Linked DNA regions of Homo sapiens: region 2 is linked to region 1. Evidence: fine-mapped expression QTL. A gene starts in region 1. The other region holds a variant in brackets. All regions are shown on one strand. Distances are from middle to middle.

Region 1 (3,033 bases):
TTGAGCCCAGGAGTTTGAGTCTGGTCTGGGCAGCATTGCAAGATCCCATCCCCCAAATAATAAATAAACTAACTAAGTAATCAATAATTGAATGAGAAAAGTTAGCTCATATTTCAATATGTTCAATCTTAGGATATATACTTCTAGGCAACCACTTAGTGACAAAAATTCTGTAGAAATCCATCATTGAAAGTTCATTATGTAAATAAATGTGAAGACTAGATAAGAACCACAGAACACAATGACATTGGAAAAAATGCCACAGTAATTCTTTGAAAAAAGAAATGCAGGCCTGGTGCGGTGGCTCATCCCTGTAATCCCAGCACTTTGGGAGGCCGAAGTGGGCAGATCACAAGTCAGGGGTTCGAGACCAGCCTGGCCAACATAGTGAAACCCCGTCTCTACTAAAAACACAAAAACAATTAGCTGGGTGTGGTGGTGGGCACCTGTAGTCGCAGCTACTCGGGAGGCTGAGGCAGGAGAGTGCTTTCAGAGAAACTTCTTGATCACAAGGGGAAATCTGAAAGTTGTCAGAACAAAATGGAGTCACTTATGTTAAGATAACCCTGACAAATAGAGCCAGGAAGGCCATGAAGAGAGGGCTCTTATCCTTGCATGCCTGAAGATGAAAAAGACTCTACAAAACCCACAACCTTACATAAAGGTCTTCACAACCTTAAAAAAATATATATTTCTGCAAGGAATGCTGCCCAGCAACTGCTGGTCCAACCTAGGACTAATGTCACCCTTGTTACTGATCTTTGTAGCCAAGGAAAATTCTGTTAAAACAATATGCAATCCTCCCCATTTCTGTCTTCCTTTATCTCCCTGAATATACACATAGTTTAATACGGCATGTCTATTCCCAATTGCAATGCTCTATTCCCAAATAAACATTGTTTCCGGCTGGGCGCAGTGGCTCACGCCTGTAATCCCAACACTTTGGGAGGCCAAGGCGGGCTGATCTCGAGGTCAAGAGACGGAGACCATCCTGGCCAACATGGTGAAACCCCGTCTCTACTAAAAAATAAAAAATTAGCTGGATGTGGTGGTGCACGCCTGTAGTCCCAGCTACTTGGGAGACTGAGGCACGAGAATCGCTTGAACCTGGGAGGCAGAGGTTGCAGTGAGCCAAGATCATGCCACTGTACTCCAGCCTAGCCACAGAGCGAGACTCCATCTCAAAAAGAAAAAAAAATTGTTTCCCTTAGGAAGCTTTCATATGTTTGTTAGTTAGGTTAACACTTCTAATAATTAAAGTTATACAGTTACAGTGTAAAATTATTAGTATTAACAACATAAACATTGGTATAAAAATTATTATTACAGAAATTAAAACAAATTGAGTGTGAGAGAGATTATTAAGACTGTCCAAGCCAAGTCACTGAAGTCATAAATTTAAGTTATGACAGGATGCCGAGCTTCCAGAGGGTTTTGTTTTTAACAAGGGAGGGGCCCTATTTCCCCTTCTGACACGCTCATATGAACTTCTCACTTTGTCGTACTCCTTCCTTGCTGACTAAGAGGAACAGAACACAGAGCAGCCTGGCGGTGTCCTACCAACAAGCCTCCGTTTCTCCTTCCTGTACACTAGGGCTCCTGAAACTCACCTGGTAAGCGCTCCAGAAAAGCAGCAGGTGGTGACTTTAGGGTAGGACGGGCCAAATGGGAGAATCCCCTTAGGTCGGTTTCTCTGGTTCTCAACTTCTTTTGAAATAACGCTCGCAGAGGAGGTGGGCTTTCTGAGAACTGAGGGAAGTAAGCTCTCAGGACTTCCGGTCGCCATGATGGCTGTGGGCAGTCAATGGGGTCAGTGCAAGCATCTGGGCCATCTTTAATGTGGGCAGGAAAAAAACACGATTACACTTACTTCTGCAGAGTTTATAATATCCTTGTTCATTATTTAAAATAAAATATCTAAGACATAGGTAATAGTATATTTTAAATAAAATTGAAGCAATATATGAAATTTCTCTGGAATTCATCCAGCCACTCTCAGCTGTTACCACTATCCAGAAACGTCTTAATCCGCCTGCATGATTTATGTATTTGGTTTGTATTTTAAATATCATTTTCTGTAATATTTAAAAGTTGTATTTGCTTGGTATCCTGCTATGCATTCTCATGCAATTTGATTTTTAATCAATATTACTTTTTTTTTTTTTTGAGATGAAGTCTCCGTCTGTCACCCAGGCTGGAGTGTAATGGAGCAATCTCGGCTCACTGCAACCTCTGCCTCCCAGGTTCAAGCGATTCTCTTGCCTCAGCCTCCCGAGTAGCTGGAATTATAGGTGCATGCCACCACGCTCGGCTAATTTTTTGTATTTTTAGTAAAGACGGAGTTTCACCATGTTGGTCAGGATGGTCTCCGTCTCTTGACCTCGAGATCAGCCCGCCTCGGCCTCCCAAAGTGCTGGGATTACAGGCGTGAGCCACTGTGCCCGGCCTTGGTTTCTAAATACTATTTTGAAGTATCTGTGGAGAAATGGTTACTTCGAGGGCTGGGGCAGGAATATATAAGATAACATTGGAACAAATTCTGACGCCAGAACATGAAGAAATATTTGAAAAAGGATGGGGCATATTGACTGAACACAGAAGACAAACATGCATGACCTCAGCCTAATCGTGAGAAAACATCAAAGAAATCCAAATTGATAAACATTCTGTAAAATAATTGGCCATGCTCAGCAAAAGTGTCACAATCACAAAAGACAAGGGAAGAATAAGAAACGGTCACAGCCTGGAGGAATCTAAGGACATAACAACTGAGTGCAATGTGAGATCCTCGATTCGATCTTGGAGAAGAAAGAGGACGTTAAGAGAAATATTGACAAAATTCAAATAAGGTCTGCACATTAGGTAATGGTAAGATACGTTGACATCAATTTCCTGGTTGGATACTTGTATTACATATACTATTATGTATATAATTATTATATTACAATTACATATACAGTTGTATATTATATATAATACAATAAATGTATATATATGATTATAATACAATAAATGTATATATACAGTTTTATA
Region 2 (2,500 bases), 21 kb before region 1:
CATTTTATATTCTCTTTCCTGGTGCATGTGCATGCTGGAGTCTGCCTGCTGAGGAGGGGTTTAGAAAGTGGGAGGAACCCAGCGCTGAACTGCAGACAGCGCATCCCAGATCATGAGAGCTGACGGTTCCATTTTCAGGGCTTTTGCAACCAAGTTGTTCAACACAACCATTAGTCTAAATTAAATGATACAAGCTAACATTTAAATAAATCATATTAAAAACAAAAGTAATACATATTAAAACATACCAATTTCCAGTCATTTTTCTACACTTTTCAGCAGTCTATGCCCTTGAGGTTATTTATGTCTCTTGTATCTGTGTGGTGAAAGCAGGATGACAGACTTCTGCATGTGTTCTTTCAACTCCCTCATCAGGGGCTTCACGTTGGTAGTTTGAAATCTGCCATGATGGGGATATTCAACCCTTGGAAATTGGCATACCCTACAAATAGACGCATTCTCCCCTCCCCGGTGTTAAACCTCAGGACCCCACTGTGGCCTTCAGCCTCATCATCAGCCAGTTTCCTAGAGAATTAGGTTGGTTTTATGTATTGAGTAACAGCTTAACCAATAACCCACTGGTCTTCGATTGCATTGCTCATTGCCTTTTTGTGTATAGGTTCTCTAGACACCTCCATGGAAGAAAACCTCATTGCTTAAGGTTTGTTTCAAAAATTTCTGGATTCATTGCTAGTATTGCATAAGCTCATTCATTCTCCCCTGAGTTCGATGAAAAACACCCAAATTCCTCTAATTCTCATGTTCCTCTGTGATATTGAGACACAGCGTCCAATAGTTTTCCAACGGAATAGCTTTTCTTACCTGGGAATGTCCCCCCCAGATAGTTGACACTCAGGAACAGCACGGAACAATAATGGCTCTGCCTCTGTCTCATCATCTTCTTGGAAAAAATGTGAGATGTCACAAAGGGTCTCAGAAACACAGGGTAGCTCCCTGTATACCCTGGAAAACAACAACAGAATTTTTACTATGAATATAAGGTAGGTGCCTGATGATAGCATAGGCTGTGCAGGAAGATTTTATGTTAATAGCCATAGACTCAATATTTTATCTTAGGGAAGTCATTCCTCAGGCCCCTACGACTCCATCTCACCTCTCAGACTCCCATGACTCTTTCTTACATCTCATTATGTTAAATTTAACTGGCTCTCTGTTTCCCACTA[T/C]ATGCTGCTCTTTCCATCCTAGGAAGCAGACGTCAGTCAGTTCTCAACATCTAGCATTTGCCACAAACATTGGTTTCATAATAGGTCAACAAGTATGTTGACCTATATAACCTTGCTAAGAATTTTAGGGAAAGGATGAGATTCCTAATTTGTAGTCTCCCTTCATCCATAATTGGTGCCCGAGAGAATAGGACCCTAAAATGATTGGGATTGCAGGGCATTAGTGAGATTGGGCATGTTTTATAAGAACCCATGGAACAGTTATCTCCTCTTCTCCCTTCTGCCTGCAAATGGTGAGAGGGGTTGCATAAAGCAACAAAAATGCTCACAGAAAAAGAAAATTATGGATATTGTACACACTTTCTTTTCCCATCAAGGATCCTTATTCAGATATGGAACATGAGAGTCCTATGCTAGATCCTTTTCTCTTCTTCATTTTTGAAGGCTTGGTGCTGTCCTCCTATGGCTGGCAGGAATCAAGATTGAGGTTAGGAGTGATGGAGTGTCCTTTATGCCAAGATATTCAATGGCCAATATGACAGCCACTAGCCACACCTGCCTATTTACATTTAGTTTTAAATTGTTAAATGTGAAAATCAGTTCCTCCTTTGAAGTAGCCATATTTCAAGTGCTCAAAAGCCACACGTGGCTCTTGCCTGCCACCATGTAAGACATGCCTTTGCTCCTCCTTTGACTTCTGCCATGATGGTGAGGCCTCCCCAGCCACGTGAAACTAAAAGAATTTTTCTGGGTAATGGACATAGGCATAGGACGTCTGGCAACAAAATCTGCTTTGAAGAGGACTCCAGGGAATAGAGATGAGGTCTCAGGCTGGTCTTGAATTCCCGGCCCCAAGAAATCCTTCCACCTTGGCATCCCAAAGCACTGGGATTACAGTCATGAGCCACCGCACCCAGCCTGAGCATTACTGTTTGATAGATATTCCCAAATCACTCTCCACAAAAGGTTACAACAGTGAACACTTCCATCAGCTGAATATCTGTGAAAGCAATTGTTGAGAGATTTTGAAGTAAGTTCAAAACCAAACTGTAGAAAAAAATCATTGACAAAAAAGGAAAGCAAAAAAAAAGAAAGAAAATAACTGAGGAATTATTACTGAAGACAACTTTTGTCTAAAAAAAAAAAAGAACATTTGTTTGCAATGTAAAATCGGGTTTCAGCTGGAAAATTAAGCCTGTTAAAAACATCAACAACAAGAGCAAAAATCCTGAATATTTTTTCAGCAATTCTGATTAAAGTATGTATGTTAAAAAAAGAAAAAGCCATGTGAGGCCAGTGGCTTTCACACTGGACAC

What was found.
Region 2: its variant is fine-mapped to the expression of CARD8 in whole blood (TOPMed, PIP 0.93).

The regions. Positions count from the first base shown.
Region 1 is chr19:48,254,182-48,257,214 of GRCh38, forward strand. CARD8 (caspase recruitment domain family member 8) reads right to left here and starts at 1,731. Exons shown (of 14, transcript NM_001184900.3): 1 at 1,611-1,731. It overlaps CARD8-AS1 (CARD8 antisense RNA 1), which reads left to right and starts at 1,494. Exons shown (of 2, transcript NR_040599.1): 1 at 1,494-1,613; 2 at 2,170-3,033. RefSeq lists an enhancer at 1,600-1,839.
Region 2 is chr19:48,233,581-48,236,080 of GRCh38, forward strand. It overlaps CARD8 (caspase recruitment domain family member 8), which reads right to left. Exons shown (of 14, transcript NM_001184900.3): 6 at 823-963. Among named protein-coding and RNA genes, the nearest start is that of CARD8-AS1, 21 kb to the right of the region's middle. The variant T/C (reference allele first, on the strand shown) is at 1,185.